Linked DNA regions of Homo sapiens. The protein of the gene in region 2 interacts with the protein of the main gene of each other region in a pairwise test. Each region holds a gene or a part of one and is shown on either strand. Other genes may lie near its edges.

Region 1 (5,622 bases), on a different chromosome or scaffold from region 2:
TTAAGTGCCTGCCCGTGAATCCGCTTCATTTTGTAGAGAAGCTATATCTCTTGAAATAAATATTAAAACAAAATACTCTCCCTAGTCTATAGCTTTAATTTTTATTGGGATATCTTTAATTTTTATTGGTATTTTTAACAATTATTATGGGAATCTGTAAAGTTGATACATGGCAAGGTAGTAATAGCCTAGTAAAGCATTTCAGTTCCAAAGACAATACTTGAATAGTGGAAGGATTTACCAATGTGCAATAATTAAAATTAGCCATGTAAAACTATGGGACATAGACGAAAAGGCAAGCCATAAAGTAAGTCTCAGATTATCTTACTCTAAATCTGAATTTTGCTACGAAGTACCCAGGGACATTGTGCTGTTCTTTTTCTCCGTGCTGGGAGATTCGTGCTAGGTCGTGCTGCATTATTAGTAAAAGGCTATTGTGATAGTTAACCCTCATTTAGGAGGAGCTCTAAGATGGATTCACAAAATACCCAAATGCATACAATACATGTGGGTCACCTTATAATTAGGGTCTAGAGTAATTTGGAATGTAAAGCAATTTTTATTCTGAGGTTTCCTAATTCAAATGTTAATAGTGCACCAAAAGGTCAATTCAAGAGTTTATTATTATTATTTTTCAACCCAAGTAAAAGCAGAGAGAAAATAGCCACCTCCACCATAGCCTCAGAAGCAAGCCAACAGCCTGAAACAGCTTTGAAATGAAAAGTTGGTGTGGCGGTGATGGTGGCAGTGATAATGGTGACGATGGTTGGGTGCTGGTGATGGTAGTGGTAGTTGTGAAGGTGGTGATGGTGGTTTGATTGATAGTAAAAAAAATGTTCGTTAATACAAGTAGAGAGTAAGTAATCAATCAATCACTCATAGCCAAGGTGGAAAAGATGTATCCCATCATGGAATATTCCTGTTCTGATAGAAATCTTGTGCTTATCTATGGAATTCTTTTGATATATATTTACATTGGGAACCTGAATGTAGCTTGACATTTTTCCATGTAAACACCAGTAGCCTGATCCAACATTAAGCTGATACTAACAAACAACGTGTAATGGCTTCATTAATAAGGCTTTGCTTCTTCCTGGAAACTGGTGAAAAATCAAACCTTGTTGTGTACACCCTCGATGCAGCTTCTGTGTTGTCTTCACCCAGAAATGGGGAATGATTTCCCAAATGGCAAAGAAACAGAGTGATGCTATCTATCTGCACCTTTTGTAAAGTCTGTCTTTCTTTCTCTTTGTTTTCCAGGACACAATGTAGGAAGTCTTTTCCACATGGCAGATGATTTGGGCAGAGCGATGGAGTCCTTAGTATCAGTCATGACAGATGAAGAAGGAGCAGAATAAATGTTTTACAACTCCTGATTCCCGCATGGTTTTTATAATATTCATACAACAAAGAGGATTAGACAGTAAGAGTTTACAAGAAATAAATCTATATTTTTGTGAAGGGTAGTGGTATTATACTGTAGATTTCAGTAGTTTCTAAGTCTGTTATTGTTTTGTTAACAATGGCAGGTTTTACACGTCTATGCAATTGTACAAAAAAGTTATAAGAAAACTACATGTAAAATCTTGATAGCTAAATAACTTGCCATTTCTTTATATGGAACGCATTTTGGGTTGTTTAAAAATTTATAACAGTTATAAAGAAAGATTGTAAACTAAAGTGTGCTTTATAAAAAAAAGTTGTTTATAAAAACCCCTAAAAACAAAACAAACACACACACACACACATACACACACACACACAAAACTTTGAGGCAGCGCATTGTTTTGCATCCTTTTGGCGTGATATCCATATGAAATTCATGGCTTTTTCTTTTTTTGCATATTAAAGATAAGACTTCCTCTACCACCACACCAAATGACTACTACACACTGCTCATTTGAGAACTGTCAGCTGAGTGGGGCAGGCTTGAGTTTTCATTTCATATATCTATATGTCTATAAGTATATAAATACTATAGTTATATAGATAAAGAGATACGAATTTCTATAGACTGACTTTTTCCATTTTTTAAATGTTCATGTCACATCCTAATAGAAAGAAATTACTTCTAGTCAGTCATCCAGGCTTACCTGCTTGGTCTAGAATGGATTTTTCCCGGAGCCGGAAGCCAGGAGGAAACTACACCACACTAAAACATTGTCTACAGCTCCAGATGTTTCTCATTTTAAACAACTTTCCACTGACAACGAAAGTAAAGTAAAGTATTGGATTTTTTTAAAGGGAACATGTGAATGAATACACAGGACTTATTATATCAGAGTGAGTAATCGGTTGGTTGGTTGATTGATTGATTGATTGATACATTCAGCTTCCTGCTGCTAGCAATGCCACGATTTAGATTTAATGATGCTTCAGTGGAAATCAATCAGAAGGTATTCTGACCTTGTGAACATCAGAAGGTATTTTTTAACTCCCAAGCAGTAGCAGGACGATGATAGGGCTGGAGGGCTATGGATTCCCAGCCCATCCCTGTGAAGGAGTAGGCCACTCTTTAAGTGAAGGATTGGATGATTGTTCATAATACATAAAGTTCTCTGTAATTACAACTAAATTATTATGCCCTCTTCTCACAGTCAAAAGGAACTGGGTGGTTTGGTTTTTGTTGCTTTTTTAGATTTATTGTCCCATGTGGGATGAGTTTTTAAATGCCACAAGACATAATTTAAAATAAATAAACTTTGGGAAAAGGTGTAAAACAGTAGCCCCATCACATTTGTGATACTGACAGGTATCAACCCAGAAGCCCATGAACTGTGTTTCCATCCTTTGCATTTCTCTGCGAGTAGTTCCACACAGGTTTGTAAGTAAGTAAGAAAGAAGGCAAATTGATTCAAATGTTACAAAAAAACCCTTCTTGGTGGATTAGACAGGTTAAATATATAAACAAACAAACAAAAATTGCTCAAAAAAGAGGAGAAAAGCTCAAGAGGAAAAGCTAAGGACTGGTAGGAAAAAGCTTTACTCTTTCATGCCATTTTATTTCTTTTTGATTTTTAAATCATTCATTCAATAGATACCACCGTGTGACCTATAATTTTGCAAATCTGTTACCTCTGACATCAAGTGTAATTAGCTTTTGGAGAGTGGGCTGACATCAAGTGTAATTAGCTTTTGGAGAGTGGGTTTTGTCCATTATTAATAATTAATTAATTAACATCAAACACGGCTTCTCATGCTATTTCTACCTCACTTTGGTTTTGGGGTGTTCCTGATAATTGTGCACACCTGAGTTCACAGCTTCACCACTTGTCCATTGCGTTATTTTCTTTTTCCTTTATAATTCTTTCTTTTTCCTTCATAATTTTCAAAAGAAAACCCAAAGCTCTAAGGTAACAAATTACCAAATTACATGAAGATTTGGTTTTTGTCTTGCATTTTTTTCCTTTATGTGACGCTGGACCTTTTCTTTACCCAAGGATTTTTAAAACTCAGATTTAAAACAAGGGGTTACTTTACATCCTACTAAGAAGTTTAAGTAAGTAAGTTTCATTCTAAAATCAGAGGTAAATAGAGTGCATAAATAATTTTGTTTTAATCTTTTTGTTTTTCTTTTAGACACATTAGCTCTGGAGTGAGTCTGTCATAATATTTGAACAAAAATTGAGAGCTTTATTGCTGCATTTTAAGCATAATTAATTTGGACATTATTTCGTGTTGTGTTCTTTATAACCACCAAGTATTAAACTGTAAATCATAATGTAACTGAAGCATAAACATCACATGGCATGTTTTGTCATTGTTTTCAGGTACTGAGTTCTTACTTGAGTATCATAATATATTGTGTTTTAACACCAACACTGTAACATTTACGAATTATTTTTTTAAACTTCAGTTTTACTGCATTTTCACAACATATCAGACTTCACCAAATATATGCCTTACTATTGTATTATAGTACTGCTTTACTGTGTATCTCAATAAAGCACGCAGTTATGTTACAAAAAAGTATTGACTGGACTGCAGTACTTTGTTTTTATTTTAATTTAGTTGTTGTTACTTACTTACTTACTTTTTAAATAGGTAATACATGCATATGAGTAAAAAACTATAATCCAGAAAGACAGTGAAAACACTCCTAACTACCCCTTCCCCCATATCAATCAATCATCCTCATTGCTCTATGAGTAGACATTATTAATTTCTTATTTAGTCTTCCAGAGGGTCTTTCTTTATTAATTATTATATAAGCAGTTAAAATAATATATATGTTCCTATTTATTTTTTTCCTATTATTATTTCATAGGATATAGCATTCTCTGCACCCAGTTATGCACCTTACTTGTTTGTTTGTTTAAATTTAAATATGGACTCAAGAAATCTTTTCATTTAAATATATAAAATGCTTTCTCATTCTTTTTTATAGCTGTATAATATTTCATTATATGTTCATAGGATATTTTATTTAAGCAGTTCCCTTTGGTGGGATATGTAGTCTGTTGTCAGTCTTTCTTTTGCTATAACAAACAATATTGCACATTTCTCATTACATCATTTCATTTGTGCATAAACAAACAAATCTGTGGGATACTTCCTAGAAGTGAGATTGCTGGATCAAAGGGGGTAAGCATTTGTAGACTGGGAGATGATACATTTTGTGCAGTGATTGATTGATTGATAGTCATAGTGTTTGTTTGTTTGTTGTGTTTTTTGTTTTAATAATGACAAGTATATTAATTAAGTCAGTTTGCAGTTCATACTTTGCTTCTCAAGAGAATTTCATATCACTTCTATTCTTAATGTCACCATCTAAGAGGATGCATGAGTGAGTAGTAAGAAAGAGACACCTAAAATGATGTCTCACAACTGGTTCTGGGGAAGAAGAATCCCTTACCATAGTCAACCACCACCATGGGGAGAACCTCTCCTTTGCCCCTGCCCTGCTCTGTTTCTTGCCCTAGCTGCAAAGGAAGCTGAGAAAGTGGGTAGCAATGTCAGCACTTCTTAGGGAGAGGCTATCTATCTTTACCTATTCCCAAGGTTCATGGATGGGGTGGGCGGGGTTCCCCAACAGTGTTCAGATACTGGTGAGCCAAAGGAATAACATAAGTCCACCAGGTGCAGCCTATCCTAGTGATTTTGGAAATAATAGGAGATGAGATGATCCATCTCATTAGAAATGATGTTTGTTAGTAGATGTGGCATCTCTGCTGTGAATCAATCACTTGCTAATTTTTTGAAAGTAGGGTGATGATGCTGACCTAAGTGACTACCACATTGAAACACTTCCCTTGACATCCACACATACCAAGAAAAATTTTCATCCTATTTAAATAAACAAATCATTTATCCTTCCCACCATTACCCGAACCTACCTTTGTTTGAAACACCCAGACTGGCTGTTTTGGTGACACTTAAGGAGGTAACTGAGGAATCTTCAATACTTCACCACGTCTAAGACAACTGTGTGTGGATGACTCTGAGGAGGGCATTTGGTTTTCCATTCCATACTTGGCACACACTAGAAGAGACAGAATTAATTCAGTTAAAAATTAAAATGAATCGAGCTGGCACAGATTATGCACCGGCAAGCAAAATGTGTGTTTGTTTGGGAGAAAGCACCAAGACTAATGGATGTGTTCTGTAGAGCTGCGATGGGAT
Region 2 (8,794 bases):
GAAACTAAAGATCTGTGTACTTCCTGGCACAGCACTTCTAAGCCTGGGCATAACCCCCAAAGCTGAAATCAGTAAACTATAGCCCACAGCCTGGACCTTGTTTTTGTAAAGTACGTTTTATTGAATACAGCCACACATGCTCATTTACATGGTCTAATGCTGCGGCTGCATTCATGCCACATCGGCAGAATTCAATAGTTGCAAGAGACCATCTGGCTCAAAAAGCCTGAAGTATTTTTATCTGGCCCTTTACAGAAAGTGGCCTGATTCTTGCTGGAAGAGACACTGGCTCTTGAATGCTAGGAGGCATGGAGAGGAGCCATGGAAGCATTGTCTATGAAAGGAAATGGCTGAAAAACCTAAATGTCCATCAATAGAGTAATTAATAAGCAAATAATGGACTATAAGGCTTCAATTAAAATGAATAAACTACATCTACATGTATCAAAACATGAGAGAGAGAAACATGCTGCATGAAGAAAGCAACCTGCATAACAGATCAACACGAGGGTGACATTAGAAACTCAAAAAACACCACGAGGCACATCCAAAGTAGAGATACACACCAAGTTCATCCTGGGGACTGCCCTCGGGGGAACAGGACTGGGGCAGGGGGAAAAAGGACTTTGGCTCTTCCTACATGTTTTTTTTGAGACAGGCTTGCTCTGTCATCCAAGCTGGAGTGCAGCAGTGCAATCACAGCTCACTGCAACCTCTGCTTCCTGGGCTCAAGCGATTCTTGTGCTTCAGCCTCCTGAGTAGCTGGGACTACAAGTGTGCACCACCATGCCCAGCTAATGTTTGCATTCTTAGTAGAAAGGGGATTGGCCATGTTGGCCAGGATGATCTCAAACTCATAGCCTCAAGCAATCCGCCCACCTTGGCTTCCTAAAGTGCTGGGATTACAGGTGTAAGTCACTGCGCCTGGCCACATTTTTATTTATTTAAAAAAAAAATGTAGCAGGAGAATGGCGTGAATCCGGGAGGCGGAGCTTGCAGTGAGCCGAGATCGCGCCACTGCACTCCAGCCTGGGCAACAGAGCGAGATTCTGACTCAAAAAAAAAAAAAAATGTAACAAAAATGTTTTAAGAAGACCAACAAGTTAAATTTAAGTCTGATGTTTATCAATATCCTAAAGAAAATCATACAGACACTTGCTGATTTTCCCCTAACTGTAACATACATCAACCCTGACTTTGAAGTTCTCACTGACCACTCTTTTTCAAAACAGCAGATGTTTACCAAAAAAGGACACTTTTCCTTTCATCTTCTGAAGCCCAAAGATTTACCAATCTGAAATAATTTACTCTTCCAAGGAGACTTTGAAACACAATCCTAATATGCTTTGCGTAAAAATCATAGCTATAAAATTGAAACCAATGGAGGCTTCAAAGGTGACCTCCACTAGGAGCCTGGAGGGACACATTCAGGGTTTTCGACTGGGTCTCAGAAATACCACCAGGGACACCAGGACAACCCCTCATGCATACAGAAAGGACTATAATGTATTAACATTCCATCAATGAAAAAACAAACTGCAGAAGGCATTTCTCCTTTCAGCAAGGCAAACAGTGGTGCTGTCAGCAAAGCCTCCGCCGACAACATTCTCCAGTTATTATTGTTAAAAGGGCTCCCTCTACTGTTAGTCTCAATTGCACAGTTCTCATTGGCTATTTCAGGCCCTAGCTTTGTGACAAACTAGGACATGTTAAGCAAAATTATCTAAAACAACCATTAATTCAGCTGGGGAGAAATACATATATGTGTGCATGTGTGTGTACGTATGTGTGCACACATCCCTATATATAAAACTTTTTTAAATTGTTGAGTTATTAGGCTAAATATCCAAGAAACTTCTGTTTAAAAGAAAAAAAAAATTCTTCTTCCTCTTTAAAGTGACTGTAAGAGAAACCTGGCTGTGGCATTTGAGACACACCCTGTTGGCCCACAGGTGCCCGCCCTAGTGGTCATGTGCCCAAGGAAAGGGTAGTGGCTGGCAAGAGGCCACAGGTCCCAACAAAAGCACATCACACATGTGTGAGGGAGACTGCGGGGAACCAGGTACAATAGAACATGTATTTAAAAAAAAGACTTAAAAACATTCCCGGCCAGGCGCGGTGGCTCACGCCTGTAATCCCAGCACTTTGGGAGGCCAAGGTGGGTGGATCACGAGGTCAGGAGATCGAGACCATCCTGGCTAACACGGTAAAACCCCGTCTCTACTAAAAATACAAAATATTAGCTAGGAGCAGTGTCGAGCACCTGTAGTCCCAGCTACACGGGAGGCTGAGGCAGGAGAATGGCGTGAACCCGGGAGGCGGAGCTTGCAGTGAGCCGAGATCATGCCACTGCTCTCCAGCCTGGGCGACAGAGCGAGACTCTACCTCAAAAAAAAAAAAAAAAAAATTCCCAGTCTCTTACTTTGCAATCAGCCAGGATCAGGCAGCCAGCCTCCCAGTCTGCAAACAGGACCTGGGAGAAGGGATGGGCAAGGCCAGAAGGGGAGAGTCAGGGAGTCAGAGCCCAACAGGCCTTTGGCTCTTGGCTCCTGAGCTCCCCAAGTAAGCCGCTGCCCCCTCCCAAGACGGGGCTGGATACCAGGCCAGGGAAGTAGCCCCACAGAGGAAGTCCCACACTTTATATCCTCCCAACTGGGAGGAGGGAGGAATGGCTTTTTTTTTCTTTCTGAGGCAGGGTCTCACTCCGTTGCCCAGGCTGGAGTGCCGTGGCACAATCTCAATCCACTACAACCTCCACCTCCCAGGTTCAAGCGATTCTCCTGCCTCAGCCCCCCAAGTAGCTGGGACTACAGGCATGCGCCACCACACCCGGGTAATTTTTGTATTTTTTGTAAAGACAGGGTTTCACCATGTTGCCCAGGCTGGTCTCGAACTCCTGGGCTCAGGTAAGCTGTCTGCGCTGGCCTCCCAAGGTGCTGGGATTGCAGGCGTGAGCCACCATGCCTGGCCAGGAATGGCATTTAAATATGCAAACAGACATCACTGATAATGGTAATATTGAAAGATGCTCCAACTTGTAAAAGTCTGTAAATGCATGAAACAGACTGCTAAAATGCCAGTGTTTATGGAAATCATTCCATTACCTTCTCCCCAGGTTTGGGTGACTGCTGCAATTTCTCATAATCTTTCTTCGTCTCCAAAATTTTTTTCACAAGTCCACCTGTTGAAAAATCAGTGATTTTATGTTAAAAGTTTATTCTCTATCCCAAAAACCTATTCTAAATGGGTGGGATGGTGGGAAAAACACTAAGTTTTTATCCTATCTCTTTTTATGCTGAAACAGTTTCAAATAATCTTTATTTGTTAAGGAGATAGTACACAAGAGTGATAGACAGCTGGTAGTGGAAATTATCACATTTCAAAGTGTTTCAGGGAAATCAGCTCCTTGAAAAGTAAAAAGCTTTAGAAATAAAATAGATTTTCTATTTTCAAAGATTAAGAAGGAGTGTAGATTGACATCCAAAAATATAGCCATTTATTACAAACAGAAATAACAAGAAATGCTTCTAAGTACGGATACTTCTTTTACACTGGGGCAAGACTATTCCACTTCTTTCAGAATTTACTCATGGGATAAATATCATGTGAAGTTTTTTGGAATAGTGTTTCACCCAAGCATACATCAGCCCGAGGCTGACTGAATAAACGAGGGTACGTCCACACGGTGGAGGACGACGTGGCTATGAAGGAAATGAGGATGGTTTCTCTGCATTGCTGCAAAATGAAAGCCTGCATCTGCTGTCAAATTAAAAAGAGCAAGATGGAAATAAGTGTAGGTATCAGTAAATACACATGCACATGCATATGCATTTATTTATTTGTTTGTTTTTCAAATGTAAGTATAAGCCCTATTTTACTGTTACCTACAGGGAGAGGGAGAGTAGAGGGTAGAGGAGACAGGGAGAGTAGAGGGTAGAGGAGACAGGGAGAGTAGAGGGTAGAGAAGACGGGTCAAAGCCCCACATTTCTGATTATACCTGGTTTTGTACATCTGACCTTAAAATCATGCGAATTATCTTACATTAAAAAGGTAAACAACACTAATGCCTAAAGGTTGAATGCAAAATGAAATAAACTTAGTGATATCCAATTGGCAAGCATGCGCCACTAGAGAATTGTTTCACAACTTTAAAACAGGGTAACTGACTGTACATCCCTAATAGGATATACCCAACAAACAGGCAGACATACCTACCAAAAAAAAAAAAGTCCTTGGGCTGGGCTTGGTGGCTCACACCTGTAATACCAGCGCTTTGGGAGGCCAAGGGGGCCGATCACAAGGTCAGGAGTTCGAGACCAGCCTGGCCAACATGGTGAAACCCCGTCTCTACTAAAAATACAAAAAAATAACTGGGTGTGGTGGTGGGCGCCTGTAATCCCAGTTACTCAGGAGGCTGAGGCAGGAGAATCTTTTGACCCCGGGAGGCAGAGGTTGCAGTGAGCCAAGATCGCGCCACTGCACTCCAGCCTGGGCGACAGGGCGAGACTCCATGTCAAAAATAAATACATAAATAAAAATAAATAAAATAAAATAAAATAAAATCCTTCAGCGTTTCCAGTAATCCTATTGTTGTTAAAAACCAGTCGTGGTGTTCTAAAATTGCTATGTGAGCATATGAAGGATCATAAAGCATGGGGACAGCCGCTGCTGCTGGGAGCCAGGCTTTTTGGCATGAGATGGAAGAGATGCATATATAAAACCAAAGAATGCAGGCAAAACCCTACAATCCTAAATCGGAATTGGAAATATCATCACTAAGTCAGAATATACTTTCTTATTTTAAAAAAGTATATCCCTGCTTTTGCAGTGAAAATGCCTGGAAACAAGAAGCAACCCAGAGCAGTAAGCGGCCAGGTGCCTTGGAGAAATGAGGCAGTTATGGGGCAGGAAGTACACAAAATAAGCTGGAAACACCTTGTCGTATCAGAAAACAAGGAAGCTAAAGAGTGTACTGGGATGTGTCTAAAGGCCCCCAGAAAATAACTCCAATAGGCTCCCCTGGTCAAATACTGGGCAATCTGAACATTAATAAGAAAAACTGAGATGGGCTGAAATGAAACACATCCACTATGTTAAAAATCCGTGACTAGGCTGGGCACAGTGGCCCATGCCTGTAATCCCAGCACTTTGGGAGGCCAAGGCGGGTGGATCACTTGAGGTTAGAAATTGGAGACCAGCCTGGCCAACGTAGCGAAAACCTGTCTCTACTAAAAATACAAAAATTGGCCAGGCATAGTGGTGCACGCCTGTAGTCCCAGCTACTTGTGAGGCTGAGGCACGAGAATCACTTCAACCCGGGAGGCAGAGGTTGCAGTAAGTTGAGATAGCACCACTGAACTCCAGCCTGGGTGACAGGGCAAGACTCCGCCTCAAATAAAAAAGGGTGGCTTCATATAGATACCAAAAAAAACCCCAAACCCCCAAAACCAACAAGCCCTCGTTACTCACCTGTGATAGGTGCCAGGAAACAAAGTCATATTGTGAGAACAGATCTATAAAGGAAAGTACTCAGCCTGCCTCTTCTGCAGAAACTGTGTTCCAGGATACTCAAACCCTGGTGTGGGGAACGGGGTTTGCACTACTGAGTTGTCCAGCTAGAAAACCAACAATAACATTCCAGAACTAGACTTGCAAAGGGCCTCAGAGATCATCTACTTCCACAATTTAATCGTACGGAAGAGACGAGATGTCATCTGCAGGACAGTTGCCAGTGAGTTTCCAGCTTCCAACTGTGCCCTCCCCCTCCTCTAAGGATGGGGAGCAGCAGCCATCGCCTTAAGAGTAATCCATGCCCGCAGGGTCCTATGTACCACCAGTGTGATCCCGCCAGTGTGACCCAGACCAGAACCTGGCACACAACAGTCCCTTGCACTGGATCCTTCCAGGCCCACGTGGAGAAGGTGCATGAGCACACACACATGGACATACATGCACACTCGTGCCCAGGACTCACCATGCTTCTCCTCTTCTTCTAGTTCCACTGCTGTTACCTGAGCAGGAAAGGAAGGGGGAAAAAGAAGATTCAGGCTTGTTGAATTTTAAAGATCATGCTTCTGTGGATCTCAAAAAAAGAACAACAAAATTAACGAAGGTAGAAAACTAACTGAAAAATTACAGGACATTTTTGTCTACATAAATCTAAAAGCTAGACTATTAATCTCAATGAAGGTAAAACATTATTATTAAAAAACATCATATTTCGGTTAACTAACCATTTCAATTTCTGACATTTCAGAGAGCTGAGGGGCAGCTTCCACCACAAATTGATCATCCTCTTCATTGTCAGAATTGTGTGACTCTGTAATCACATTTGAAACGGTTTTACCACTCCCTGACCTAAATAAAAAGAAATTAGATTAAATTAGAATTACACATTTTCATCAGTCCCAAGCATCTGAAACTGTGTCAGAGGTCGGCAGAGAGGAATCTAATCACCAACCATCTCTAGCTAGAACAGCATCTCAAGCTACCCGCTGAAGCTAAGATGGACTGTCTGCAAACAGTGTCCTCTGCAAGCCCTCCAGGCCTGAGTCCCTGTGAGCCTCGCCCTCCACCCCCACCCAGCTTCCCCACGTCCCTGTGCTGCCCAGGCCTCCTGGTCCACACCTGGCCTCCCGTCCCCACAGCCTCGTCATGCCCTCTACTGCACAAAGACCCTCAGGGCCTCCGCCTCTCCCCTGACTGCGCTCTCAGTGACACCAGCCCTTCACCTGCTGCTTTCTACCTGGAGGCGCTTATTGCCCTGGGTCACAAACCTCAGGGCAGGGGCCACATTGGGGTCCCACTGACCAGGGCTGACCCCAGACCTCTCTTCACACAGCCAGCTGGAGGCCCCTCATTCAACTCCTAGTCACAGTGGCTGCCCTATGTCCCGCTCAGCACCACGTACACACTGCGCTCCACCCAAGTCCACATCATTCTGGGCAAGTCAGCGTCCAACAGCCTGGCCCTCCAGCCCCAGACCTTGTCCTCCTTGGTGACAGCCTTCACCCAAGGGCTCTCTCATGCTCTCCAGGGCCACCTACTAGAACTGCCCCACCTACAGCTGCCCCACTCCTCCTCACTCAGGCCACTGTCAGCTCACTCTGTACAAATGTGAGCCCCCGACCCAAACACTCTACAGGCTCCTTAATGGCCCCTCCTGCCTTTGTTTCTTCCCTACACACTTGTGCTTTAAGCAATCACCTAACTCCCCCTGCCCCGTTATCGCAGTGCTGCATGCGTGCACATGCATACACACACACACACACACACACGCATACACACAAGCACATGCACGCACACGCGCGCGCGCGCACACACACACACACACACACACACACACACACCAAAATCCTCCCTTGCTTCAGTGCCATGCACAAGGTCCAGAGGGAATGTAGACACTTGGGAACGACCTCTGAAAATAACACCCATTGCCCCAAACATCCTCGACTTCCTCAACTGGGTCCTTGAGACACTCAACAACCACCTGTGTGGCTCCGCCAGGACCAACCTCACTTCGAACCCGCTGCTCTGTCAGTACCAGGAAGTCCAGGCTCCCGTCCCTCGTCTCTCACGCTCCCAGCACACCCTCACTGTGGCCCACGATCCACCTCCTCAACACCTGCGCCCCTGTGCCTGCCGTGATCGGCAGGCCCTCTCTGTCCCGCCTTGCTCTCCAGGACACAGCTTCCCCACAGCCCTCAGCTGCAGCTGCTGCTCCTCCCACCGGCCTCTTGTCACGGGCCCAGAGGGAAGGTCAGTAATTTCCTTATGCTTGCTTCGGCTTCCAGATCACTCTCCCTAAAAACTGCCAACTTTAAATCTTGTCACCCTCGACCCCATCATTGCTGCCATCAGCTGCCAACCCATGGTCCCACCCAGTCCTCCTGGACCCGCCACTCTCACCAACGGTGCTCCTGTCTTACTTGTGATTTCAAGTATTGAGAAATGATCCTTCCAAAATCCTGGCCTTGGGTCCCTGAACCCTGCTGGGATGATCCCACCTCCCACACTCGACGCCCACTCCCAGGGGCACCCCTGTCACTACCACTAACAGCAAGCTCCAACCTCAAATCCAAGCGCCCCACTCCTTTACCACCACTATCTATATTCCCAGCTCACCGCCCTAGGACCTGACTCCAACAATCCTTCTATCCATCCGGCACCTTCAGCCTCTCAATCCTAATGCCTCCTCCTGACCTTCACCCCGAGGGCTCCTCCCTCACTCACTGGCATAAATCCCACATTGGTCATGACCGTGGCGCTTCCACATACTCCTACTCCTTCCCTTCTCTCTCGGTGCACTTGCTTGGCACAGCCGAGCCCTGTTTAATACAGCCTGTGCCCCCCAGTGCCTGTAGGTGTAGCCAACTGCAGCTGCAGAACAGGCCCCGCCACACCATCTTCTGTCTCTTTACGCCCAAGTCCACCAGATGCTGCCCTGAAGTCAGCTGTCAGCCACGGCCTCCGCCCAGGCACTATGGGCAGGCAGCCCATCCTCCTTTGTGGTGGAGACTGTCCTGTGCATTGTAGGAGGTTCAGCAACTGCCCTGCCCTAACCCCTCCCCTTCATCAGAACACCAGAAAATGTCTCCAGATCATGGCCCAGTGTCCCCAAAGTAGGATCACCCCTAGAGGAAAACCTCTGCTCCAGTCTCTTCACTAGCCCACTCTCGTGCACAGCGACTTCACCCAGCCCCTCTCTCCTCTGACACTCCTCTTCCCCCAGACCCTCTTACGGCTCATGAGAAAAATAAGTACCAGAAAATCACCTTAAGAATCTGCATCACA
Region 3 (8,794 bases), on a different chromosome or scaffold from region 2:
GCAGGGCTTTTAATAGCTCATCCAAACCTGACCACTACGCATTTACTGATGTAGGCAGCATGGAAGTCCAGCTGGAAAGATTTAGTAGGAAGTCAATCCTACGTAAATGCATCCTTTGCTTTTTTGGTAAAGGAATCCTTTCCATCAGTAAACCTCAGATACAGCTTAACAATTTTAGTCTAAAATATGTTCCAAAAGATCTACCTCATCTCTTTACATAAAGCAAATCTACTAGACCAGTGCTGCAGTTTTGATAGAACATAAACCCTCCTGTTTGTTGGAGATATTTACAAAACGTTGGTTCTTTATCTAATAGGGTCACAGAATGATCATACTCAAGATCTTCCTGGGGAGTCAATGGCAAATTTCACTGGGCTATTTTACAGATGAAGAAGGAACATAAAGAAGGTTCTGGGACCCCGAAGTCCACGGAACACCCACCATTACCTGATCTTTGGAGCTTGTCATTTGGCCAGTGGACCCTAATAAACGTCCACGGGGATGTGGGGATAGAATGCCAGAGCCTGGCTCGCTAGGGCATCCAGGTTCTTCCTTCCTCTTTGCCCTGCTGTCTCCAGGCACCAAGAATCTCCTACAGTTCCCCAAAGATGAACCCCCCATTATCTCAGGTCACTCTGTTTCCCCCGATCTTTACCAAATTCCTGACTCAGAGTTCCTCCCATTTGCTTCTGACTCTCATTTTATTCTTACCTCTCATTTTATTCTTATGATGTTTACCATTTCTCTTCTCCTCAGTGTCCCTCTCTGAGTGGTAAGAGTATGTTAATAAGCCAGTGCTGAGACCGGAGCACGAGGCAACTGCTCAATGTTGGTCATTGTCACTGTTATTAAATGTAACTTAAGGGAATGAGTGGTTTCTTCCTTTTTTTTTTGTTTTTTACTTGATTCAATACCGCCCAATGCTCTTGAGTATGAGAATATAAGGTAAACTTTATAGAAATTTTCAGATATAACGTCAAGGATATTTAAGACACTTAAATAATAGTTTGTGGCTATGGCATAACATCATCATCGAAATGGGAAAGCCAGGAGCAGCCAGGAATTCTGTCAAACGCACAGCTCTGGCACTGTTTATTAGCCAGTCTGCCCCCATCTGGGGAGACACTGGCCAAATCTCTAGGCTTGACCCAAGCCCATCCCCAACCCAGCTTCCTTTGCAAGCTACAGCTGTGGGCTTTCACTGGGATACTCTCCTCACTAGGGTAAAAGACACCTTTGGTTGGATAAACCCAGAGACATTACTTTTACTTTACCTAACTAACTTTCTTAGATTTCTGTCTTTACAAGGAGAAATGGGAGAGCTGGCCCAGTGCACTCTGGAGGGTCAGGTGCACGGTTATGGTGCAAGATTAGGGTTAGAACGGGGCGGGGTCAACAAAGGCCTGGAAGACCTCAAGTCTCCCGCATCTAACAGCAGCGTTCCCAGAATTAATTAATGATTCCCGTTCCTCACTGCACCCAGTCCTAAGGGTACCTTCCCCGCGGTAGCCCTTGACACCGGCAAGCAGTTCGCCCTCAGGTCTTCCCGCGTGCACCTGGCCGCCCCCTCTCACCTGACGTGGCCTTGCACATCTGGGGCATCCTGGTGACCCTGCTGTGCGCCACGAAGGTGCTCTGGGAGGAGGTGCTGTACTGCGAGCCGCTGTCCGAGGAGGTGGAGCTGGTGTGCGACAGGCGGCTGTGCTCCTTGTGCGAGGCGGTGGAACGCTGGTACCACTGGCGCAGCTCGTCTGAGACGGCGGCACGGCCCGCGCCCTTGTCGTGGGCGCCCTCGCGGCCCAGCGACGGAGTCCGCAGGATCTGCGATCGCGACGGCGTCAGGCGGCCCGTGTCGCCCTCGTCGCCGCCGCCGCCGCGCCAGCTCTCCTTGAACAGGCCGCCCGCCGTGTAGGAGTTGGACGTCTTGAACTGAGCCTTGACGCTGTAGTGGCCCTCCTGGTCGCTCTCCAGGCTGCGCACCACCACGGGCGTGGCGCCGCCCTCGATGTACAGCGGGTACTCCTTGATGCGGTACTGCGAGCTGGGCTGGCTCTGGCTGTGCAGGTACACACCGCCCCCCGCGCCCCCCGCGCCCCCCGCACCCCCGCGCGCCGCCAGGTTGGGCATGCTGCCCGAGCTGGCTGAGCCCAGTGCGCCCGCCGCCCGCTGCCGCTGCCTCTGCCTCTGGCGCGCCTTGGACGGCGAGTCCTCGGCCAGCGTGGAGTAGTTGGCGTTCATCTGCGCCGGGTAGTAGTGCTCCGAGCTCGAGTGGCTGGTGCACGACGAGCAGTCGTCCATGGGGTCTGAGCCGTTGCTGCTACGAGTCCGCGGGGTGTAGAAGTCGGGGCTCCCGGTGTCGTTTTCCGAGCCCAGGAGCTTGCCCTGGGACTCCAGGCTGGAGCTCCGGTGCCTAAAGTGCAGTGCGAGGCTGTGCAGTCGGGTGGGGCTGATGTCCACCGACCTGCCGGGAGACGACCCGGGTTGGTCTGGGGGTGGGGAGTGGGCCCAAGGAGGGGTGCTCCGGGGAGGAGGGGGTCCTGAGGAGGGCACTGGGTGTCTGCACGCGGGCGCAGGCCCCAGCCCAGCAAGCCAGAGTCTCACTCAGCAGGGCTGCCCCAGGGATCCGGGAACTGCCCATTGCGGGAGGTGAACCTGGGGTCTCCACCATGATTCCCAGTGGGAAGTGGGACTGAAGCTAGGACTCACAGAAAGGTTTCGATTTCTGGGTTTTTTTTTTTTTTTAAATAATTCTATAGACACAAAGAGAATCACAGAATCCTTAGTATCATGTTAAACCAGATAGGGCTGGGCACTGTGGTCCACGCCTGTAATCCCAGTGCTTCAGGAGGCTGAAGAATTGCTTGAGCCTGGGAATTTGAGACCATCCTGTGCAACACTGTAAGACCTCATCTCTTACAAATAAATTAGAAAATTAGCTGGGTGTAGTGTTGTACACCAGGGGTCCCAGCTAGTCAGGAGGTTGAAGAGGGAGGATCACTTGAGGATGCAGTAAGCTATGATCAAACCACTGCACTCCAGCCTGGGCAACAGGGCAAGACCCTGTCTCTCTTAAAAAAAAAAAAAAAAAAAAAAAAAGAAAACACAAACCAGATGAAATGTCCCTATTTACAGATCAGATAAAAGCAGTCCTACAGAGGCCCTTCATATTGTTTAACCAAATACTATTACATGATCCATATAAATAGACTCCCCTTTCCTGTGAAAACTGGGAAATAGAAGGTTGGTGGCAAATGAGATAATTAAACAATGAATGATGCAAATACTCACCATACCATTACTTTATAATTCATTCTGCTCGTTTGAGTCCACTCAGGGCTTAGGGAAGTGCAAAACAGTATCACATGGCAGATGATGTTGCCCGATGCTGGGACTGCATGTGAACTTCACAGCGGCCCCACGGGCCAAGCACAGGAAGAGGCGAGTCCCACTTCCGACTGCCACTCAGAAGGGGGATGAAAGCCCCCATCACGTGGCCCTCCGTGATCTGGTTTGCTTCTTTTTAGAAAAAGAAGGTGTGGCTAGGAGCGGTGGCTCACGTCTCTAATCCCAGCACTTTGGGAGGCCAAGGTGGGTGGATCACCTGAGGTCAGGAGTTCCAGACCAGCCTGGCCAACATGGTGAAACCCCGTCTCTACTAAAAAATACAAAAATTAGCCAGGCGTGGTGGTAGGTGCCTGTAATCCCACCTACTTGGGAGGCTGAGGCAGGAGAATCGCTTGAACACGGGAGGCAGAGGTTGCAGCGAGCCAAGATCGCGCCACTGTACTCCAGCCTGGGTGACAGAGCAAGACTCCATCTCAAAAAAAAAAAAAAAAAAAGAAACAGAAGGTGTGATTCACTGAAGCCTCATTTTTGCCTGGCTCTTTTGCTCTTTATGAATTTACATTTTGAGGCACTAAAGGAAGTCCAGTATAAATTTAGGCCTCAGTAGAAAGATAGAAGACCTCTTCCCATGCTAACCCAGCCAGCCTCTGTGGCCTCTGCTTTGCTTAGGAAACTTTCCATGCTCCCTGTCTCCAGAAGCCCGGGGATTCTTTGGCTGACTCCAAGTGCCCTGTGCATGGGTCTCTTGGCTAACGGGGGTTGACTGCTGCCAGCTTGGTTTTTTATTCCGCTTCATTTATCCTCCCAGGTTCAGGTCTGACTGTAGCTCATCCATTATTTGGGCCAGCTTGGGGCTGACAATGCCCAATTTTAAAAAGGAAGGCTTGGTCTGAGCAGGAAGGCCAGGCAGACTCACCTCGTGGAATGGACGTAGTGGGGACTCCGGACCCGCAGGTCTGGCGTGGACGGCATGCTGGACTGGGAGTTCCAGTGCGGGAGGCCGCGGATGGGGCTGTTCTGCAAGGAGTTGCTTCCTCCGCCGGCTTCCGCACAGCTTCCTGTGCTGGGGAAGCGCTTGTGGCTGCTGCAAAGCCAAGGATGCCACGTGGTCACCGCCAGACAGACAGCACCTTTCCTGGGGGGCTGGCTAGTTCAGGACAATGATCCCAGCATGTGGGGAAAGCTCGCCCGTGACTCCCACCTCGCTTGGTCAGACCTCTACTGTGGTTCTCAGCCTTTCCCCAGCAGGGGGTATGCCCTCCCCCCTCCCAACCTAGGCAATATGAGAGGAAAACCCTGGTCAGCCTTCTCTGTGTCAGGCAGTGTGACGGTCCTGCCCTTACAGTTTTTGTTTTCCAAGAAACAAATATTTACCTGTCCTGGCACCCCCCTTGGAGCTTGGTAGGGTGATTAAAGGAAATGGGAAAAACAGAGAAGCAGACCGAAAATGCCTTCCCCCCCAAAAAAAACCTCCCTACAAAGTCAGCCCGGTAATGAGCTGATAATACACAGCTTGGATTACAGCTGCTTGGCTGGAGAATTCTGCTGGATGAGGGGGTAGAGTTCTGAACCACTCTGCATTTGCTCCGAGTGGACTTTCACTTGCTATTTCAGAATAGCGCTGCCTGAGATTTCCTAATTAATTCCTCTGGAATTTAACAGCATTCAAACCATCTGCCATCACGTTGATTGTGGGCCAAAGCCCCAATTTCTCTGAGTCACAAAAATGTACCTCAACAGTGTCGGCAGCAGAGGGCGCTGTGAGCACGGCCCCGTGAAAGGCAAACCCCACGGGGAGGAACTAGGTTGATGTGGATTTTGTCACCGTGGATGCTACTTGGGACGGCCCTTTGATTCTTCCAGAGCATAGAGGGAGGCCTCATTTGGCCTCATTCACGATGCAGCTCACCTGGAATGGCTGTGAGAGGAGCGCTTCTTGACCTTCTCATAGGGTTCATCTAAAGAGGACTCACTCCACATTTTGGGCTTGATGGGTGACTTGTCATAGTCGTTGCGGTGATAGTGCATCTGTCGGAGTCCCTCCAGGGACTGGGGAGGAGGAGGCCTGTTGTGCGACGGTGGCCGAGGAGGGAGTCCCTTGTGAGGAGAATGTAGGGGGGATATTGTGCTGGTAACCTGAGAGTCTTCTGCACAAAGACAGGAAGAGAGGAACTGAGCCCCGGTCATCCTTCCCACAGGCTGAGACAGAACCCCTACACCCCTCCACCCGCACCTTGGAGCCACACAGCCAAACCCACACCTTCACCCCTGTGATGAGAAACCCTGAAACTCTTCCCCAGTTGCCAAGACAAGTCAAGACGAGTCAAACCAAACCAGGGCAAGCCAAACCTCCACTGCAGGCGGGATTGCATGGGAAGAGATGCGTCACTTTTGATTAGACACGAATGGAGTGAAGTCTGAACGTCATTAAATACCACCAACAAATGACTGCTTCACACTAAACAGCAAAATGTAGTTACTGCTGTAGTGCTAAGTTGTCTTTCAACAGATGCTAAGCATCTGATTCACTGTGGGAGGGTCTGAGTTCTGGGAGAGTTTTGTCTGTTTCATCTGCTGCTAGATCCTCAGCCGACACATAGTAGGTGCTTGATAACCATTGGTTGGAGAAGAAAAAATGAATGAGGGTCTATATGTCCATTGTAAATACCTGCTGGGTGGATCGGGTGTCTACTCTGCTTTTTTCCCCCAGAGCTGTGTTTATTCTCTTTTAATCTCTTCCTCTATATTTTAATTTTGAAACTGCCTTAACTTTTTTAAGGAGATGAGCTACAAAGATTATGTATTAATAAATGATTCCCTGCCTCCAGGAAAGAAATGATCTAACACGTCAGTGCGCTAGAGGACTTTCAGAAAAAGCAAATTCAGTGAGTCTAGGAGGTGCTGTGGGAGAGGCTGGTCTTGAAGGGGCTTGAGCAGTGGGCAGGCAAAGAGGAGGAGGAAGGAAGGGCTTGAACCAAAGTGTGGAGGCCCTGAGGGCAGGGTACCAGCTGCAGGCACATCTGGCCAGGCAGGGGCTGGTGAGGAGGGGCAGGGGGAGTAAGGGCAGAGCTCTGGCCAGCACAGCCGCCTTCTGTGTGCACCATGTGAGCCAAGAGCCCGACTGATGGGGGCCTGGAATTCCGAGTTGAGATTTTGAAAAGCCACAGGAAAACTTTGCGATGTCTTAAGCACGGATGCGTCGGAGTGAAAAATCCTGTTTTAGAACTATTCACCTGGCAGTGTTCTAAAACTAGAAAGGAAGGGAGAGAGACTAGAGAGGGGGATGAATGAGGACTTCAGGCTAGGGCAGGTCAGCATTGAGAAGAGAGAGGAGGGAACGATTCAGGCTTCACAGGGAAGGCAGACATGGGAGGTGGAGGGGAAAAAAGCACAGAAGCAAACCTTACAACCAACCAACTACCATTCACTTGCCCCTAAATCCATTTCCAGCGACTTGTTTCACAGCCTAATTCTCAGTCCCCCAGCCGTGGACACCCACTATGCACCCACTCCTCCTTTGCCCTCAAATCAGTAAAGGAAGAGTCCCCAGAAAGAGACCCTGCAGTGGGACTGTGGCAAAAGGATGTGCCGACACCTGTGAGGAAGTCCAGGGGTCTGCATCTGGAACACGGGGAAGAAGCTGGAATCACGGAATGATATCTCAAAATTACCCCGTGACATTACCTATTGCTCCAGGCACCCCTCTACTACCAAGGAATCTCTCAATTTTTCTTCCCTTTCCAGGGGAGACTGGGATACTCAGAGGCCAACCGCAGGGCTGGGATCTCTGATGCTCAAGCCCCCCATTTCCTTGTAGCCCAATGGCGTCCCCGGCTTGTAATGAAGCAGACAAATATATTCCAATCTGATTTCTAATAGCACAGCCAAGGTGACTGGGTAAATAATCCGCCAGACTTTCCTCACATCAAGAGCAATCATTATTATTATTGCAATTATCATTATTACTATGACTAGTGTGGACCTTTCATGCTTTCCATCTGAACAGCCACTTATCACTGCCTGCCTGAGGTTTCCATACAGGGCAAAAAAATTAACTGCCACTTAATATATTTCCATATAATTAATGTACCCGCCTCCCAGTACGATGGTTAAACATCCACAGGAGTATTCTCACATGGTTCTGGGTTTGGAATTCTTTCTTCCCCGACGTATGGTGGTGATGGGGGTTGGGGGAGGGATCAGTTCTGTTTTTTTAAGAATTTCCCAAGAAAATATCCTAACTGCCAGGTTTTAAGAGTTCAGTGGGAAATAATAAGACAGTTTTCCAGCCTGAGTGTGTATCTACTGGGATATCTCCCCTCTTACTTTCACTACTGTCTTGGGAAGCAACAGAGGGTGTGTTCCATTTCTTCTCACGATCCTTACACTCTCCTAGTGGGTTTCAATCTTTGATTTGTGATCTAAATCAATTTCTACCCTTTTCTTTTAGATACCATGAATACTCAAAAGGAAGCTATGCCTAGTGTGTAGATTCTCTGTCTAGCTAAACGTGGTTTTGGGCCAGGTATGGTGGCTCCTGCCTGTAATCCTCCCAGCACTTTGGGAGGCCGAGGTGGGTGGGTCGCTTGAACCCAGGAGCAACATGGCAAACCCAGTCTCTACAAAAAAATACAAAAATTGCCAGGTGTGGTGGCATGCTGTAGTCCCAGCTACTAGGGAGGCTGAGGTGGAAGAATCACTTGAGCCTAGGAGGCAGAGGTTGTAGTGAGCCGAGATCATACCACTGCACTCCAGCCTGGGCAATAGTGTGAGACCCTGTCTCAAAAAAAAAAAAAAAAGTTTTTGGCTTCTAAAAAAGTAAAGCACCACTCACTGATGAAAAGCTCTAATACACATGGGTTTATGCAGCACCTACCCACTCCCAACCAAAGAGGTGAATACTGGGAAATGAGAGAGCTTGCAGGGAGCCCAGCTGCCTTTTGGCCTGGCTCTTGCCTTTACACAAGGCAATCCCCAGACTACATAGAAATTCATCTCTGTTTACTCTGAGCTGTAGGTTTGTAAGCAGGAAATGCATAAACCTACCATCCTCAAGAACAAGGGCATCTGAGAGGGAGCTGTCTTCACTGGCAATGTTTCCATCTGAGAAGACAAAAAGCAATAGCCTATGAGTTCAGCACATTCCTTCAGCAAAGCCCTATCTGTAAAAATAGCATGTCTACTACCACCTCATACCTTTCTCTTCCTAACCAGAAACAACCCACCAGATACAATAAAAATGCTGTTGGGTGTTTCTTTTGTCAGTCCCCGTGGTGGGTCATTGGCTCAGCCTCCCCACCCCGACACTGCCATGTGCCCATGTGCCCTAGCCTTTGTGTGTTTGTGCCCCGGTTTCATAGAATACTGCAATGCAGAGTGGCTTCATACCGAATATAAAGGCTGCCCCAGCCTGATTAAACCACATCATTGTCCCTGCACAAACCCAGGG
Region 4 (8,794 bases), on a different chromosome or scaffold from region 2:
TGTAAATTTCTGTAAATTTCTGATCTCCTCAGTTTTTTTTTTCCTCAAATTATTCTTTTTAAAACTTCCTTTATGTTTGGTCTCTTTGAAGTCAGATGCCCAGTTAGGGGAGTATCTGATAGCCCTGGCTTGGTCTTGGTCTTCATGAATCTTCCTGCTGTTATGTCTCATCTCCACTAACAGAACTAAGTATCAATACATTGTTTTGAAATGTTCCATTAATCTTTCTCTTGTGAATGAATGGAGAATTAAATATACCAGACAAAATTGTTTAGTTACAGTAACTAAATAAAAATCTTGTAATATATTAATTGACTATTAATACCTCTTCTTGAAAAATAAATACTAGATTTTATTTTTACCTTTTTAGTTTTATCTATGTCATCTTAGTGATGGGCTATAGTCATGATATCTTCAAAACATCAGTGACTTGAATCTTGCTTGTGAATCGTTCTCTTCCAACTGTGAACTATTTTGCAAGTTAGATTTCTGGATTTGAAGGTCATCTGAGAGGACCTCACATGAAATCTTTTTAGGATGACAAGAAAAAATAATGACATTGGTTTTTTTAGCAATTATTACAATTGATAATTTTTGAAATTTTTTGCAGCTAGTAAGATCTTTCCTAATAATTTTATGTTCAGGAAATACATTTAGCTTTTATTTTAATTAATGAATGGAAGTCATTGCAATGTTAAGCCAAATATTTTATCATTTTATATAAATTACATTTAAAATTTGTAACATGTTTTAGCCAATATTGATTATTTATTACAATCCTTGATTTCAAATTTTATTGAGTTTTTTTTTCCTCCACAAAGAATTACAAAAAAAAAATTGCTGGGCATGTCATGGTTATACAAAGAAAAGTCCTGCTGCCCTGTGTCCTGTAGATTCATATTTGACTCAAGTGTGTTGTGCATCTTCACTTTCAGTCTTCTCCAGCCACAACTGTTACGTCTCCTAATTCTACACCAGCTAAAACTATTGACACATCCCCACCGGTTGATTTATTTGCAACTGCATCTGCGGCTGTCCCAGTCAGGTTGGTAAATAAATATGCAGTTAACTGTTTATTAATATTTTATTAGAGTTTGGTTTTATTTTTATGTGCTGTACCCAAATGATTTCACCAAAGGAAATCTAATCCTAGTAATGTTGAAGTTTTTACTACACAAAGTACATTGTTTTACTCCTGTGCCTCTTAAATCATTAGAAAGACCTAAGCTATAGAAATCACCTTGTTGTCACAAACTGAGAAAGGAAATGGAAGAATGATACACACAATTTATTCTGAAATTGGCTGATATGGAAAGTGTTTTCTAAAATTAGTTTCTTCTTGTGGGAGATTCAAAAGGTATTTTAAAATGCTTTAAAACACACACACACACACACACACACACACACACACACAACCCAACTTGGAATTGTTTGACCAATTAGCTAGTGCGTATGAGGAACTCACACTCTGGTGGTAGGAGGAGGCCTTTGGGGTATTCCTAATCAGTTTTTATAGAACCTACAGATCAGAACAGTAGTGAGAAATCTGGGGATGACTGTGCGTTCTTTGAAATCTCTAGCCTCCTAAAATCAATCCCCAGCTCATAGGTGTGTCCTCAAATAATAAATTTAGGTCAATTCCTTAGTTCATTTGCCTTAAGAGGATTCTAATATCATTTTGTAGTATCTTTGACTCTGATTATGAATGCCCTATGTTTGGAGACTTGAACTTTGAACTGAGCAAGAAATCCAAGTATTGTACCCATGTTAACTGTGTGCTTTACTCTCTACTTGCTTAGTTCTGCATTTTATAATAGCAAATTTGGCATAACCAACTCCTTTCTATTACTGTTCTAATTAAATTGCTTCTTACAAAAGCTTTAAGATATTAATAATAAATATGTATTCCTTTCCTGGTATTTAGTCCAGTTGTATTTATGAAATGGACATCAAAACTAGCAATGGTTTCAGTGGTTTTGAAACTTTTTTTAAAAAGCAGCAGAATCCTTTCTTCAAAAGAATATTACTTGGAAATCTAATATGTAAAAAAAGATAAAGATGAAACTGCTGTTTATGAAGGCAGGTGGGGAACCTGGGACCCTGATGGCTTGGCACCTGGCCTGGTAACTTTTAAGCCAGTGCTCCTCAAATCTGAAGGTACATGTGAATTGCTTTGGCATCTTATTAAAATGAAGATTCTGAGGTGGTAGATACAGGGTATGCCTGAGATTTTGCATTTATAAAAACATCCCAGGATGCTGCTAGTTTGAGGCCTATACTTTGAATAGTAAGGCTGCTCCTTGGAGATTCTACAGACAGAGAAGCTTTGAAAAGCACAGCCTCAACTGAGTAAAAATAAAAAATGCAGTAGTCGTTTTAGGTAAGTCCTCTTACAGGCAAACTTGATATATTATAGTCTAACGTAGGAAAAAGATAAATTAGTGGTTAATAATTCCCTTTAGTGTTCTTTGGTTTATAAATAAATTCTTCTCAAGACATGAATTTTTTTTCTATACAAAAGATTTTAGGAAATAGAGAAAAGATAACCTCAAGGTTATGATTTTGATTTCCCTGTAGAATGCTGCACATAGATCAACTCCAGCCCACTCTCTGTTTTTGTAAATAAAGTTTTATTTGAACAAAGACATGTTGATTTGTTTGTGTATTGTCTATGTCTTAATTTCATTCTACATTAGCAGAGTCAAGTAATGATAGAGACCAACTGGCCCTCAAAGTCTAAAATACTTACCATCTTGCCCTTGACAAAAGTAGTTTGCCAACTCTTGGTATATGCTATAGCTCTATACTTTCCAAAGTATTATTCTTTTATTGGATTTAAAATACCTAAAATCTTTGATGATTTCTGCATGTCTTTATTCAAAAACACCTTTATGTTATAAAATTTCAAAATCTGATTTTAATGTTTTATTTTCCTTTCAGCACTTCTAAACCATCTAGTGATCTCCTGGACCTCCAGCCAGACTTTTCCTCTGGAGGGGCAGCAGCAGCCGCAGCACCAGCACCACCACCACCTGCTGGAGGAGCCACTGCATGGGGAGGTGAGTAAAACCAGACAACCTTGCCATTTCTCTATTCATTTTATTTCATTGTTTTTACTTAGGCTATAATTGTTAACATTTACCTTTTGATTATCTAAAATGGTATTAGAAACTTGGAGGGAAAATGTTAAGAATGGCATTTATTGATTGAAATATATATTGAGAGAGAGAGACAGAGAAAGTGCCTGTAATACAGTGAGAATGTTCAAATAGTCATATAGTTTTTATTTTAACAGTTGGAACAAGGAAGTTTTGTGGGTTTTTTGTTGTTCTTTTTTATTACTACTCTAAAATTCTGATTATTTTTAGTAATTGTTCTCTAGAGACTCAGGCCTTGAGGATTGAGTATTCCCCTTAATTTATGGTTACTCAAAGGTAACATTTCCAATTTGGTTTGGTCAGGTGTAGCCTCGTTCCTGGATTCTTTTAGGCCTGAATTGATTTTATTCACATTGTATTTGACTTCATACAGTTGAAATCTTTTTACAGATTCTTATTTGTACCAGAAAAATCCATACTTTAAACTGATTGACTGAGAGGAATCACATCTAAGCACTTGATTCCCACTTTATTTATGGATCTCAGGAAAAAAATCAGCCTTTTATAAATATTTGATTTAAAACATTTAATATTAATATAAAAATTAAAGTAATTGCTTCATAATGCTCAAAGCTGCAAAGAGTTGGTTTTAAATACCATGCCTTCCTGTACCAAACTATCAGAATAAAATTTTCAAAAAGTTTAAGACATGCCTTGTACAACTATAGGAGCAACAGAAATAAAAGACTTAGTAACTCACTAATGAGGAAACCAGCAAGATGATAAAGCTGTCTCAAAGAACATTTTGAGGAACTGAGTATTTATAGGTATTTTAAAAGGAATGTTAGAATAAGATGGCTAGGTTAGATAGAAAGCTGTTAATGACCTATAGGGTAATAAAAATCATAGCCTTGAGGTTATCTTTTCTCCCATACAGAGATTATTTGCATCACTAGCAGACAAGATCTGTAACAACATAACATTGGAGAATCAGAGCCTTTAGTGCACAATAATAACTAAGTCAAATGAAGTTATATTTCTCTAAATAATTGAATGTCCTTTGGTGGTCTTGTTAAACAGTGTGTCAGTATAACATCAAAAGTCCTATCTGTAATCTCTTGATCTCATTTCCAAGTTATTTTGGTAACAAAAATAAGAGAAAGATAACCAGTTCTGAAATAATGTTGCTAACTATAAATAAGAACATTTAAAATGTTGGCACGTTTCCATTTTAAATATGTAAACCTTATCCTATATTGAAATGTTCAACTCCTAAGGCTACAGCTATCAATTTTTAAAATAAAATTGTTCTCTCAGCTTTATTTAACTTTATTAAATTTCTATTGGTAAAGGAAAATATTGCTAAAGAGATTTTATAAGGGCATTCTTTTTTACTCATGTTTTTATTCTGAGCTTCATCACTGATTATTTTAATTTGCTAATAATTTATTTTCATTACCATATTGTCTTTGTTAGAACTTTAATGAATAAACAGTGAAACTGTAAACTAGTCCCTTTTCCATATTCCCTGGCATGAAACTGAAGATAAATTTTATCTTTTTTTAAAAAATTTTGGCACTAAAAGAATGCCAAATAAAAGGAAAAAATAAAAGGTGAAATTTTGTTGAATTGCAATATAACATTTTTATTCATTTTCATCTCTAAATACTTTTTGCTAAGACACATAATATTGTAAGGAATTGATTGTAATAACCAATTTTATTAGAATACATTTTAGCCTTTAAAGTTAGAAATATGTAACTATTGATGATTGAAACATTAACATACCATTGGACATAAAAAGACAAAGCAGAGCAGTATGGTTTTAGCCAGGGCTGTACTATACAGACAATGTAGATCATGCATTGCTCAAAGGCAGGGCAAGGGGGCTGAAATCCAGCCAGAACTCTATAGTCACGCTGTGAGCCTTTCTCATTATCCTTGAGAAAGAGATGCTTTACTTTTTCTAATCTGTCTCACTACAGGGAGTACCTTTTTTTTTTCTTCTTTTTAAGATATTATAGCTTTTATTTTAGAATATAGCTTTTATTTTATTTTCAAATTTTAGCCATAAGACAGTAAAACGAACTCACTGATTTACCAAAGACAGTTGGATTAAAAAAACTGAGTGCAGTGGCTCATGCATGTAGCTTCTGAGGAGGCTGAGATGAGAATCTCACTTAAGCCCAGTAGTTAAGAGTCCAGCCTGAGCAACATAGTGAGATCCTTTCTCAAAAATAAAGAAAAAAAAATCACAAAAAGGCAGTTGGATCCAAATTATATTTCTGACAAAATGGGGCTTGTTCACATGGCTAAACATCAGTTGTCCCAATAGGTAAGCTAATGGGCCAAAATTTGGGGTAAAGCAGTTTCCATAGTAGTTTGATTTTAAAAGCATATTTTTATGCTTTTTTCAGTTATTTTAAATGACTATAAGGTTAAAGTTTTTTTGATAAACACATAAGATTAATTTTACAATAAAAACTAAGATAGCTCTCAAGTTACAATGAAAGCTAATATTGATTGAGTGCTCCTGTGACAAGTACTATGCTGGTCATCACTACACTTACCCAAGAAAGGTACTATCTTTAACCTGTTTAAAATGATAAATATGTGAAAACCATGTAAACTTTCTTATTTCTTTCTTTTTTAACTTTAAGTTCTGGGATACACATGCAGAATGTTTGTTACATAGGTATACATGTGCCATGGTGGTTTGCTGCACCTATCAACCAGTTATCTAGGTTTTAAGCCCCGCATGCATTATGCATTTGTCCTAATGCTGTCCTTCTCCTTGCCCCAGGGAGTACGTTTTTATAATTAGTACAAAGGCACCTTATAGGGCCTGATGTTCACCTTTTGATGATTAGACAGCACTTTTGCCGCAACAAAACATCTACAACTGCAACATTTCATAGCAATAGAAAAGTCAGCTTTGGGGGGAAATGCTAATAAAGAAATTCTCTAATTTCTAAGCAAAATAGTAAAAATTATAAGACTTTAAGAAATTGAAATAAACTTCTACAATTTGCCCGGTGGATACCCAGTCATGGTTGAAGGTGATGCTAAATTGTAACAGATATGTGTTTGTTTATTTGACTAAGCAAAAAAATAAAATTGTTTTCTCAATCTTGTTTGATAAGATCAAGCCACTTCTATTATTGAAGCATATTTGAATTCTGTATAACTAGGCAGTAAATTATAAACTGTAAAACTCTGTAAGCCTAATTGGATGGTCTCATTTCCAAGGACCATAGCCACTTCAAATGTCTCTAAATTTTTCTTGGGGGTTATAGGTACCAACACACATTTTTATTTCAGGGGACACATTGTAATGATAGCATTTTTTTTCCTGTTGGTGTAAAGCAACCAAATTTTAGCAAATTTATTTTAGTAAATTTAATTTAAATTGTGCATGTAAGATTTGGCATTTCTACAGGCTGGTGATGAACCCAATCGGCTGAAAGAATACAGAGGATTTTTTAAATCCTCATCTTTGGCTCCCTAATAGAGTGTTTTTTATTTTCTTCATAGTAAATTCATGTTGCAGAAGCACAAATAAGTGTGTGTTGTGTGTCTGTATATTTTAGACATGGGAAAACAGTTTCTTTTTATACATGCTTAAAGTGAAATTTCTACTTTTTTTGAGAAACATGGGATTACTGCCAGAATTTATTAGAATTAAAATTATCTACCAACATGTATTTGAAAGCTAATCAATATTATGTGATCATATGACTCTGATATCTTCATGTATAAGGTTAGCTACAGCACAAGTAGTTTTGTGACCCATTTGCTTGTTAATAAAATCTGAAGTACATGTCTAAAGGTGAAACTTGGTCTAGAGGATCTCTAGGTCCCTTCTAGCTTAAAAGTTCCATGATAATAGGTAGTACATTTATTTTTTAATTGCAAATGGTGTAGAAGACACATAAAGCTAAGGTTTTTTTAGTTAGTGCCTTATCTGGCTTGGACATTGGTATGGTTGCATGTTTCAACTTTAGCTCTTATTTATTCTTATGCTGCCATGTAATGGACATCGGTAGACCTTTTGGGAGAGGGTGAGTAAAGCTTTGTTTTTAAACTTCCATTTTGACAGACTTCTGTATGTAACAACTGTCCTTATTTTGATCATTTGGAGTCTGGTATATCTTTTGTCCTTTGCTTTTCTTCTCTCCGTTTGCTCTCTGTCTCTGGTGAAATATAGATTCTTTGGCTGCACTTTCCTCTGTTCCCTCTGAAGCACAGATTTCAGATCCATTTGCACCAGAACCTACCCCTCCTACTACAACTGCTGAAATTGCAACTGCCTCAGCTTCTGCCTCCACTACTACAACTGTTACTGCTGTCACTGCTGAAGTGGATCTCTTTGGAGGTTAGTTAGTCTCGCTGCTACTTTCATTTTTTCAGGATTGCTAAAATTACTTGGGAGTTAAGGTCTTTAAAATTTTTTCCGTTATGTAACAGCATGTCAGAGTGTTTAAGTACTTTTTCAATGTTTATTCATGTATATTTATCTTCACTAAATTCATCAACTTTCTCTTCACTTAATTTTAGTAATTTTATAGCAGAGATTGCAATGCATCAGGCCCATTTGATTTTCACGTTTTTTAACATTAGAATTCATGTTGCTACCTTCAGAACTCCTGCCTTTAGGTTCCTGCTCTCCAGTGTCTGTATAAAAGTGGTACCAGAGCTCTCTGTCACCTTTAGGTTTATTTAGCTTTTCGGCCAGATTAGAACTAGCCCAGAGAATATTTGGGGAATGTAGGAGGAGCAACACAGGCCTAAGTTGTTTCTTAATGTTTAGGGCAAAAAATAATCTAAGAGTAATTCAGGTTTGGAAGCCTTTGAAGAGAGTTAAGGGATGTGCCTGTTTTTACAGCTTTAAGTTTGTTCTGTCCAAATAAAAACTTGGATCATCTTTGGTTTTGGAACTCTGAGAAAACATCTGAAGCAGCACTTGAAAGGCTGATTGAAAACAGATTTAAGTCAGTCTTTGAAATGATTGTCTAAAAATATGCTTTCCATGGAAATGTAAATTCTGACCCACTATAATATGCCTGGACCTGATGAGCCATGTGAAGCCAGTTTATTCATATATGTATCCCCATCTGTGTGGTACCAATGTCCACACCTAAAGAAGTTCTCATATCAAACACATACGTCAAGTGATGTTATAGTCATTATAGTTTTGTGTATCTTCATTACCATATAACATCTTTCCTAGGGCATTTTGAGAATATGGTAAAGAAATTGGAGGAAGAAAATGGTGAAAGCAAGAGAGATTTGGCAGGCTTTGGTGTAATCAATATGTACCCCTGGGAACATACATTTAACACACTGTCACCTACCACTCTGCTACATGCCATGCTCCAGTCTCTAAGGTTGGCCAACATCATCCAAGACAAGGAGCACTCCACTAGACACAGCTTTGTTGCCACTGCTGCACAAAAGACATTTTCTGCTGCCTTGCTGTCCATTCCTATGGAACAGGAGAAACCTGTTTGTAAAAGAGTAGGAGAAAAAGGATTGCAGACCCTTGAATAAAGAGTCACCCATGGTCTGGCGCAGTGGCTCACATCTGTAATACTAGTACTTTGGGAGGCCAAGATGGAGAATTGCTTGAGCTCAGGAGTTTGAGACCAGCCTGGGCAATATAGTGAGACCTTGTCTCTGCAAAATAATTAAAAGCT

The links.
Region 1: the proteins of TRAF3IP1 (region 2) and DMD interact in a two-hybrid assay, tested with the Homo sapiens proteins (2 studies listed by BioGRID and IntAct).
Region 3: the proteins of TRAF3IP1 (region 2) and FRMD4A interact in a two-hybrid assay, tested with the Homo sapiens proteins (2 studies listed by BioGRID and IntAct).
Region 4: the proteins of TRAF3IP1 (region 2) and SNAP91 interact in a two-hybrid assay, tested with the Homo sapiens proteins (2 studies listed by BioGRID and IntAct).

What each region holds. Positions count from the first base shown.
Region 1 is NC_000023.11:31,117,569-31,123,190, reverse strand, and holds the end of DMD (dystrophin), read left to right. Parts: intron 1-1,260; coding exon 1,261-1,272; coding exon of another isoform or gene 1,273-1,358; 3' UTR 1,359-3,969; downstream 3,970-5,622. UniProt on the Homo sapiens protein: Anchors the extracellular matrix to the cytoskeleton via F-actin. Ligand for dystroglycan.
Region 2 is NC_000002.12:238,350,391-238,359,184, reverse strand, and holds part of TRAF3IP1 (TRAF3-interacting protein 1), read right to left. Parts: intron 6,359-8,794; coding exon 6,235-6,358; intron 6,013-6,234; coding exon 5,976-6,012; intron 3,182-5,975; coding exon 3,105-3,181; intron 1-3,104.
Region 3 is NC_000010.11:13,655,062-13,663,855, forward strand, and holds part of FRMD4A (FERM domain-containing protein 4A), read right to left. Parts: intron 8,449-8,794; coding exon 8,392-8,448; intron 5,493-8,391; coding exon 5,255-5,492; intron 4,430-5,254; coding exon 4,262-4,429; intron 2,462-4,261; coding exon 1,575-2,461; intron 869-1,574; exon of another isoform or gene 317-868; intron 1-316. UniProt on the Homo sapiens protein: Scaffolding protein that regulates epithelial cell polarity by connecting ARF6 activation with the PAR3 complex. Plays a redundant role with FRMD4B in epithelial polarization. May regulate MAPT secretion by activating ARF6-signaling.
Region 4 is NC_000006.12:83,599,950-83,608,743, reverse strand, and holds part of SNAP91 (clathrin coat assembly protein AP180), read left to right. Parts: exon of another isoform or gene 1-311; intron 312-935; coding exon 936-1,045; intron 1,046-2,940; coding exon 2,941-3,059; intron 3,060-7,144; coding exon 7,145-7,159; intron 7,160-7,305; coding exon 7,306-7,473; intron 7,474-8,794. UniProt on the Homo sapiens protein: Adaptins are components of the adapter complexes which link clathrin to receptors in coated vesicles. Clathrin-associated protein complexes are believed to interact with the cytoplasmic tails of membrane proteins, leading to their selection and concentration.